2 separate regions of the Homo sapiens genome follow, and region 2 is linked to region 1. Evidence: fine-mapped expression QTL. Tissue or cell type: whole blood. Region 1 holds a variant in brackets; the other region holds the start of a gene. All regions are shown on one strand. Distances are between the middles of the regions.

Region 1 (5,147 bases):
GGCATCTACCACAGAGCTGGGATGGGGAAAGTCCTGTGTGAGCTATTTTTATTTTTGTTGTTGTTGTGGATGCTGGAGTGGGTGGAGGAGCCTCTGAGCCTGCACAGCTGGGAGGGGCAGTCCCAGGAAAGCGTCCGGAACCCTGCTGACCTTCGGAGCCCCCAGAACCCACTTCAGCGGAGGCAGGCGTGGAGGGCAGCGGTGTCGGGCTCTGACACCCTAGACGCTGTCCTCCCAGGAAGTGGTTTTGGTTTTATCCCACTTTTGGTCTGAGTGAGCAGACAGGCCCTTTTGGGCTCCTGTCCCCAAATAGCCTCCCACCCTGTATCTGAGGGAAAGTGAAACTGTCCACCCTCAGGTCCTGATCAGGTCCCTGCTGAGGCCCTGACCCCCCTCTGAGGTGCTCGGAAGAATGGGCTTGGATTCCGGCCAAGCACCCAGAGAAAGGTCAGCCGCGCTTGCTGGATGCGAGTGGGTCAGGGGCCCTGCTAGTGTGGGGACAATGGATCCCTCAGCCCTGGCCCGTGGGGCTCTGTCTGCCCATGGAAAGGCCCAGACCCCAGTGGGAAAGGTTCTGGGCTGGCGGCCTGGGGGTGCCCTGCACTGCCTGCCTGTCCTTGGGGCTTTATTGCCACTGGACTGGGCGTTTCTGTTGTTTCCCTGAGGGCACCTTTCTACCTACACCTCCAGCCCTCAGGGCCTGACCACCCTAGCTGGGCTTCCAGCCTGAACTGAGAGGCCCACCTTCCCAGGGCACCCTCTGGGCCTGACCAAGCCAGTCTTGCCTGCGACCCCTGAGAGGCCAAAGCAAGGCCCTGGGTACATGAGGCTTCCCGACTCTGCTTAGAGAGCACCGGTTGCTTCATTCCCCCCTACCTAAAGTGTGAGCTCTAAGATGGCAGAGGCAGGGTCTGAGACAGTCAGAGCCCCCATAGCTCCGTGCCAGGTCCCAGGTCCCCAGACCCAAGCCCACAGCAACAAGCACAGAAACCGGTGGTGTGGAAACAGTCCCCAGACAACCTTATCAGTCAGATAGCATAAAGCCTTCCTGTCTGCTCCAGCCTGGCCCCGTAAAAACAGAGCTGCTGATTAGAGCCTTCCAGACACCAAGACTGGAGCCCTTCACGGGCTGGAGAGACATTCTGGTGAGCTTTTCCTGCCCCACTCTATCTTTAAAAATTACGAGGGGTCAGGCACTGTGGCTCACGCCTGTAGTTCCAGCACTTGGGGAGGCCAAAGCAAGAGGACTGCTTGAAGCCGGGAGTTGAAGACCAGCCTGGGCAATATAGCAGGATGCCATCTCTAATAGATACATGTATTTGGGATTTTCCAAATTAGCACCTGTCCTTGAAAAGAAATTTGATGCTGTCTTTTTAAAACCATAAAAATATTCATCATTTACCCAGAAATTTCATTTATGAGAATGTAGCTTAAGGAAATAATGGAAAGGAAGGACTAAAGTACTAGTTAAAGCTACCCACTGCTGGGTCTGTCTAGAACATCTAACCTGACCCTGGAAATGACCCCATGCCCAACATCAAAAGGACGGCTAGGTTAGCGCACGGCAGCCCACCCGCACGGCTGTATTAGTGCACGGACGGCTGCTAAGGATGGCTATATTAGTACACGGCTGTATTATGCACTCGACGGGGTCCTGGATGGCTGTTAAGAATATAAGTGACCAAGGTACACAAGCGGCCTGTGCCCAGCGGGCGTGCAACGTGCCTGCATGTGACCAGGCATGAGGGCACATGTCAGGATGCTGGGATTGCAGCTCACACTCCCTCCTGGCCCCTTTTCTTGCTTTCATTCTTTTCTTTCTCTCTTCTTTCCTTTAACTGAGGCCACAAGGACTTCTGCCTGTCCTCAAGAGGCTGGGAAGACAGCCTCCGAGTGGCACCTTCTGGCACGTGGAGAGAGGAGGAAATGCATGAAACCACTTCCCAGCTTTCTTCCTCATTTGCAAACCCTTGCTCTTCCTCTCAGCTCCTGTGAACCCCAAAACAACAACAAAATAGCATCGTCGTCATCATCATCGTCACCATCGTCATTGTCGTCAAACCCAGAGCCAAGCTATACTTCCTCCCCAGTGAGTCCACGTTTCCCTGCAGGCCCTGCCCTGAGACC[C/T]CAGCTCCGGAGAGACCTGTCACTGGAAAGTGTCTCGGAAGCCAACTCCACCACTCGCTGGGGCTTTCCTTCCCTTCCTCAGGGGAGCAGAGGAGCTAATTGTCCAAAGGCCAAGCCACCTGCTGGGTTGCCCAAGGAATACAGGCCAGTCCAACCGGGGACAAGCACGTTAGACAGAAAAATAAAATTCCAGATCCAAAGGGGAAGCTGACAGCAGTGCATCAGGGGCACACCCACCCAGGGTGGACAGCAAAGTAGGCACAGGGGGCTCCACGGCAAGTCAGAGCTGAGTGTTCCTGGCAGGTGTGGGCCAGGAACTTGACCCAGAGCTCGCTACCCAAACATCCAAGTCACTGCCTGCTCTGGGTGAGGGGGTGCTTGGGACCACAGCTGGGGGAGGATCCTCAAGCACAAAACCAAAAAGCACCAACCCTAAGGACAAGATCGACCAGCCTGACCGCGTTACATTTATGAACTTCTGTTATCAAAAGACACCATAAAGGCCGGGTGCTACGGCTCATGCCTGTAATCCCAGCACTTTGGGAAACCAAAGCAAAGGGATCACTTCAGGCCAGGAGTTCAAGATCATCCTGGCCAACATGGCGAAACCTCATCTCTACTAAAAAATAAAAAATAATAAGAATAAATAAAAAATAAAAGTAAAAAAAGACGTCATAAAGAGGGAAAAGACAAGTCACAAGCTGACAATATTTCAACAATAATGAGCAACACAGAATTTGTATTCAAAATACAGAAAGAACCCCGCTAATCTAATAAGGAAAAGATAAACAATATAATAGGAAAATGAGCAAAAGACTCAGAGGGGCATTTACAAATGAGGAAACTCAAATTGCAAAGACGTGAAAAGCTGCTTAGCCTGAAATGCAAAAGAAAGTCAAGAGGAGAATGGGAAGCAACAGGAAATACATACCTGTCCTGAGAGGAAGCACATCTGCTGTCGGGCGTAACCACAGTGAAAACGCTGCACACGGGCACGAAAGGACAGAGAGTGTCTGTACAGCACGGTCCAAAACACAAAACACTGGCCATGGTCCAAAGAACCCTCAAAAGTAAACTCAACTATTTTTTAAACTGTACAGTCATTCAATGGAATCTAACATTCATTCAATGGACGCATGTGTCAAAAATCATAATTTTGAGCAACAGTGAGGAGAACACAGAATTTAAAAAGAATACCTGCAGCCAGCCAGAATGACCACCCGAAAGAGGCCTGCAGTCTCAGCAATCCGGGAGGCTGAGGCGGGAGGATCACTTGAGCCCAGGAATTTGAGACCAGCCTGGCCAACATACCAAGACTCCATCTCTACAGAAAAAAAAAAAAGAAAAAGAAAACTTAGAGGGTGTAGTGGCACATGGCCATAGTCCTAGCTACTCGAGAGGCTGAGACGGGAGGATCACTTGAGCCCAGGAGTTCCAGGTTGCAGTGAGCCAAGATTGTGCCCCTGCACTCCAGCCTGGGTGACAGAGAACGATCCCAAATCAAAAAATAGAGAAAGAAAAGAAAAATAACAAAAAGAATACCTTGAATCTGATCTTATTTATATAAAGTACAGAAATAAGAAAAACTCTATAATGCATTAATCTGAGATGCATATGTTCACAGATGGTAAAGGCATAAGTGTTCATTTCATGACTACTACTATTTATTTATTTATGTATTTAATTTTTTTGAGATGGAGTCTCACTCTGCTGCCCAGGCGGAGTGAATGGCGTGATCTCAGCTCACTGCAACCTCCGCCTCCCGGATTCAAGCAATCCTCCTGCCTCAGCCTCCCGAGTAGCTGGGACTACAGGCACGCACCACCACACCCAGCTAATTTTTGTATTTTCAGTAGAGACGGGGTTTCACCATGTTGGCCAGGCTGGTCTCGAACTCCTGACCTCAGGTGATTCACCCACCTCAGCCTCCCAAAGTGCTGGGATTACAGGCGTGAGCCACCGCACCTGGCCTACACTACTACTATTTAAACTGGACCTAAAATGATGTCTGTGCAGTATAAAACACCGCACCATTGTTTGTGATTGAAAAGGCTGAAATGACTTGTGTCCATCTGTAGGAACTGGCTCAATAAACAAAGATGCATTAAGGTTCATTGTGCAAAAGTTAAACAAAAACAACCACTCAGTAGAGGCTGTCTGCATAAACAGACCCGGGTATATTGACAAGTGTGAGAAATACAACCAAGCGTAGAACAGGCCGGGTCGCATGCTTTCCTCTTCTACAGGCAATGAGGAAAATAAGAACACTGTCTTGTTTGTCTTTGCCTGTTTTTGCTCACAAACCCAGGGTGACCGTTTGTCCTGTCTCAGTTGGTGCCTGCCTTTCTGGCACAACTTGATCACACCTTTCACTCTTAGCAAGGTCCTGGTTTGAAGGATGAATTACATGGGCCACCCTACTCAAAACCCACTTCACCTCCATCCCTAGCACACAGCTAGCCTGCATTTTCCCATCTGCCCTGCAGGGGTCTGGCCATGGGCACCAGCTCTAGGCAACGGCGTCTCAGTGGAAGTTACACCATGGCTCTCGGACCTGGACCGGAGAGCTCTGCCCTGTGAGATCCTTCCTCCTCCAGCTGTCTGGGCGCCAAGGCCCAGGGCAGCCTCGGAAGCCCTGAGCTGAAGCTGGCAGAGCCCCTGGCAGCCGGGTCCCGGAATGACTGTGGGAGCCCGGCCTCCCGTCCTCCCTGCCTGCCTCTGCTGACCTGCACTGGCTAGGATTTTTGGGGTGGGTAGAAATCAACTTCAATTGTTTTTGAGCCATCAGGCATTGGGGGGTCTATTTGTTACAGCAGTCACCCTAACTAATACAACTAATTTTATTTTATTTTATATTTATTTTATTTATTTATTTTATATTCTTACTAAAACACAAAATAAAGGTACAAACTTTTCAATATACTAATTTGTAGGATTTATGTATTAATTTGTAGGGTATATTTTACAGGAGCTGGCCAGGACCAGGCTCAAGGCCACAGTGGGAGCACCGTCCAGGCTCC
Region 2 (5,147 bases), 100 kb after region 1:
TATATGCTTTTCCCCTCACAACATCTAGTGCCTGAAAAATCTGACCAAGACTGCATTTAAAAACTGAAGTGTAAAGGTATTGGTTATAAGAACAAACAGCAACCAGCTTAGCCTGGCTCAGCACTGGCTGCTCTGAAATTTCATTACCAGACAACTGATGCTCTAAAACCATTCCCCACATTGGTTTGCTCTGTGGCTGGATAAGACCCAAACTTTATCCATACAGTAAGTGTCTCTATACTTCACACATATAGGGTTTCCATCAAATCCCTTTATCGAGTCTACAACCCTCTCCAACTTCAAATTCACTCCAATACAAATCTGATTCTAACCATGCCAGCCATTCCAAAATCATCTCCCTTCTAGAGACTACATTGGCTAATCCCTTTGTTAAACCTGAACACAATTCCAGCTGCTTTTATGACTCATTTGGCCAACTAGAGCCCAGTTACTGGATAACATGCATACACCACCAAGCTGAACTAATTAACACCAGAATGCAGTTTTCCACTGAATCTACCAAGGGCCAAGAACTGCTTTTCCCCAAGGTTCTCTCTCTCTGTACTCAACAGACTGGTGTGGTCCAATATGCTGCGGGCATTCTCTTTCATTTATAGGAGTGCCTCCAACTGCGAAATGTGAGAGTATGATGTGGAAAGGTTCTAGAACTAGATTAACGTACACGGGCTCCAGCTTTGCAAGGACAAAGGTGCACATTTTAGGGAATCCAGTATCAGCCCCAACTGCCTCCACTATCAGGTACTGTGCTATGAGTTTTCCAACATTATGAGGGAGACCCGATCTGTCGGGCCCTTCTAACGAGAAGCTTCGATTTGCAAAGGCTAAAGTGCCTTCATCAGGGTGAGAGGTACACCCAGCGAGGCCACACTAGTCCATCTGACCCCAAAGGCCATGTTCCTGAGCGCCGCGCTCACCATCCCGCCTCTGATCTTTTCTCCCTCGGCCCGGCGTCTCCCGAGAGGCAACCCGATCCCGCCGGAAGCCCAAGAAGGGCCTAGGAAGCGGGCGGAGGCGAGAGCCAGGAGAGCACCCGGGATGCCGGCCGCCGGGATGCCGGACGCAGGAGGCGGTGCCCGGGGAGCAGGGGCTCACCTGTAGGCGGCCACGGCCCGAGTCTGCAGGTATTTCTGGGCGGTCATGACTCCCACGAAGAGAAAGTTCCTGTCGCGCGGGCCGCCATCTGGGTCCGAGCCGGGCGGCCAGAGCTGCGCCCCGCGCGCATCGCCGCGCGCCCCGCCGGCCTGGGAAGCCGCCGCCTGCCCGGACCGGCAGCCCTCGGGGCTGGCGCGGCGCCGTGGGCCCGCTCGCTTCAGCTCGGAAGCCCGGGGCAGGACGAGCCGCGAGGCCAGCACGAAGCCCAGGACGAGCCCGAGCAGCACGCTGAGCCAGGCGCGCCGGCCGCGCGCGGCCATGCCCGCGCCGCTCCGCCCGCCGGGCCGCCGCCGCAGGCTCCGCGCGCCCTCAGCCCGCTGCCCCCGCCCGCGGAGGCCAGCCCGCCCTAGCGCCGCGAGGCCCGGCCCGGGCAGCGCCGCCGCCGCCGCGGGCCCGCCGCGCCCATCGCGGCCCCCGAGCCGCCCGCAGGCCCCGCGCCGGCGCTTTGTTCCGCACGCCCGCCCCCGCCGCCGCGGCCTGCGCCTTTAAGAGGGGACCATGCCCGGCGCGCGCTAGCGGCGGCTCGGGCGCGAGGTGGCGGCGGCTCCTCCCGCTCGCGCGCGGGGACGCGGGGCCGGCACGACGGCGACGACGGCGGCGGCAGACGAGTCCGGGCTCCCGTCCCGCCCTGCCCGCGTCCTCCGGCTGGCTGGGCTCGGTTCGCACGGCGCCTGTCCCCGTCCTCTTCGTAGCCGGCGCCGCCGCCGCAGCTGCACATCCTCCGGCTTAGCTCGCCATTGCAACAGGAGCCCCTCACGTCACGCACGGCGCGTTATGAAGTGGCCCCGCCGGCGGCGAGCCGTGGCCCCTCTCGGGATCCGTCCGCGCCGCGCGATTGGCGCAAAAGTGAATGAGGGGCGGTTCACGTGGCCGAAGTTTGACCAAAAAAAAAAAAAGCCCTCTCGGGCGCCCCGCCCGCGCGGTCTGCGACTGGAGCTGGCGGGCGGAGGGGGCGTGGGCCCCCGCCCGGCGCCCGCGGGGCCGGAGCTGCCCGTGATCCGCACCTAGCACCCGGCGCAAGGGCGTCCCCGCGAGGACGGCCGCTTCCCGCACCGCGGCGCCCGGGCGCGAATCTCGGGAGCCAGCCTTGCAGTGGGGGCTTCTCGGCCCCCAGACTCCACGCTGCGCACGTTCCTCCCGCACGGGCCGTCCTCGCTGCACCCCACGGCCACGCCCTTCCTGCCGCCGGGCCGGCCCCGCGCTCCCGGCCCCGCGCTCCCGACCACACTGCAGCTTTGTCCGCAGTCCCGCGGCCGCACGCAGGGAACAGCCGTCCCGGAGCCCTGGGGACGTGCGCGCCTGCGAGTGGACCGTGAATTCAGTTACCTTGTTCCCTGTTGCTAGTTTCTACGCTAAATAAGAAGAAGAAGAAGAAAAAGCCATCTTTAATACTTAAGGTCCACGCTTCTCATACAGTACTAGCATTTAATGGATCTCGAAGACAAGGAAAATGAAGTTAATGCCCTGGATGGTAAACCCTACTTTCATTTACATACTGTGTGGGCAGATAGCCGGCTAGTACCCCCAGCCTGGGACTTTGTCCCTACTTTAATATAGTCCGTCTGTAAAAGTGCCGTGGATTTCTAAAGACGGATTTTGGGTCCCAGATCCTCTACTCTGGATTTTAAGTTTTATACATTTCCTCTGCAATACTTCAGCTAAGGCAGCAAAAGCGGAGGTCTCCATACAACGAAAGTTTGTGTAGAGTTTCAGTCTTGTTACTTAGTCACCAGTATATTGGGGTTTTCTAATGAAACTTTTGAAGGGCAAAGTGTTTCCCTGGGCCTGAGAAGTTACCTGCATTGAATCAAATAAACACATGCCTGGGGCAATCCTTGGATCTTTCTTCATTGTTGACCAAATGGTTGAAATACTATCACACAGTTTAAAATGCCTGTGGGAGCTTCAGATACCTTCTCGGCACCTGAATGGTGGTCACTCTTGTTTATTCTTTGGATATTACCACTTTCTTTGACACTTGTGATTTATATTAAAAATAGTTCATTACCTACCTTCCCACAGAGCCCCTCCCTAAGGGGTGATCCACATCTAAAAATAAAATACTCATTATGCAGTGAATACAGGATTCCAGCAGTGGTCTTGGGAAAAATACAGAACATACAACCATGAATTACAGGCTCGAAAACCATCGAAAAAGGTTTCCACTAAGACCATAAACCACAAATGCCGAGGAGTCACCAGATCCCCCAAATTCAGCAGCCCCATCATTCACAGTGATTTACATGAAGTACGAATCTGGCCAGATTCAGATGTTCAATTTTGTAGCATATTCAACGATTTCAGTATTTTCTAACCTGCTTTAGACTTACCTAGTTTTCTTCGAAACTAGTGTCCAGTGAAAAGCTGGCCGGGCGCGGTGGCTCACGCCTGTAAACCCAGCACTCTGGGAGGCTGAGGCGGGCGGATCGCCTGAGGTCAGGAGTTCGAGACCAACCTGACCAACATGGAGAAACCCCGACTCTACTAAAAATACAAAATTAGCCGGGGGTGGTGGTGCATGCCTGTAATCCCAGCTACTCGGGAGGCTGAGGCAGGAGAATCGCTTGAACCCGGGAGGTGGAGGTTGCTGTGAGCCGAGATCGTGCCATTGCATTGCACTGCAGCCTGGGCGACAACAGCGAAACTCCGTCTCAAGGAAAAAAAAAAAAAAAGTATATAAATATCTGATGGGAATAATATTCTGAGGATGCCAAATATTTTGTCCTCCTCAATATCCTGGTTCCTAGTTGTCCCTCAGTTCCTAGGTTAACAGTCTCACCTGTCTCACCTGCAGGCTTAATGGGGGTCTTTCGTAATGTAGAAAGGATACCCTTTTCTTTGTAAAGGCTGAGCCTGAGGGCTTACAATTCCCTGGAGAAGGAGAGTAAGACATACGGGAACTCCCTCTGGGAGAAGAGGGATATGCCAGGCCAAGAGAGGGTTGGAAGGAGAAGAGAGAAACTGAGGTCCTGTAGAAGTCTGCCAGGGGCAGGGACCAATTCCGGCATGCAGCCTAGGAGCAGGAGGGCAAGCTCTAGCACATCTGGAAGGAGCAGCTGGATTGTTGAGCTGAGGCAGTTCTCCTGGGGAAGAATCCAAAAGTGTCCCAGTAAGGGGCCTGGCTCAGGAGACAAGGCTATCCTAAGTGGGGATTTCACAGCCAGTAGCAAATACCTGGAATCAAGAACTTCAGTGACAGCCAGAGACCCAAACAGCTGGACAGGACTGGTACCCCCAGTATGAAGGCCTGTCCCATGCCCAGCCCCACTAGTCAATACCAGCAAGGAGCCAGGGAGGACAACGAGGGTCTGGAACATCTGCCCCCAATGCACACACATGCGTCCTTCCCCACAGCCCCCTGGAGGCCAAGGCTGTCCTCATCCTAAAGCCCCCTCACCCTAAGTAATTTTTAAAGGTAAGGAGTAGGCAGGGTGATTCGCATTTATAGGGATTTCACTGCAGGGAGCTGAGGAAAGACTTTTCATGTTCCGGGCTTCTTGATTTCACTGTGCTACTGGCCTTCTCTGTTGAGGGAATCATTGACCATTTTTCTCATCATAAAAGAAGGGGAGGTATTAACTGTTACCAGGAACACTTGTAAGGAAGCCCTTAACTGTAGTTATTCCATGAAAGTCCCAATGGCACAGGAGTGGCCCAAGAGGTGGGCTGTGATGGATCAGGGATCAGGAGTGTGGGACCGAGTCTGAGCTCTGCGTGGAGTGAGTTCCACCTGGAGGGGCTCCGGGAGTCCGGCTCTGTCTCCAAATGAGTCTTTCTGCTGGATCACGTTAAACGGTCCTCCATAGTGATTCCAGACCAGTATTCAGAAATGTGTTCAAAAATCCCAGATCACTTAACTTCCCTTCTGTGTTCATGAGTGTGACTCTTTATGACACATTATTAAAGTTCATCGCCACCTACCTTACTGAGCATTTTCTCACAGATGGCAACTTTGTTCCCACACACTTCACATT

The links. PIP is the estimated chance that this variant, and not a neighbour inherited with it, causes the effect.
Region 2: it holds the start of CHSY1, and the variant in region 1 is fine-mapped to the expression of CHSY1 in whole blood (TOPMed, PIP above 0.99).

Annotation. Positions count from the first base shown.
Region 1 is chr15:101,148,396-101,153,542 of GRCh38, forward strand. It overlaps LRRK1-AS1 (LRRK1 antisense RNA 1), which reads right to left and starts at 3,444. Exons shown (of 3, transcript XR_001751724.2): 1 at 3,325-3,444. The variant C/T (reference allele first, on the strand shown) is at 2,128.
Region 2 is chr15:101,250,024-101,255,170 of GRCh38, forward strand. CHSY1 (chondroitin sulfate synthase 1) reads right to left here and starts at 2,025. Exons shown (of 3, transcript NM_014918.5): 1 at 1,114-2,025. The coding sequence starts at 1,433. RefSeq lists silencers at 1,010-1,439, 1,630-1,939, 2,110-2,489.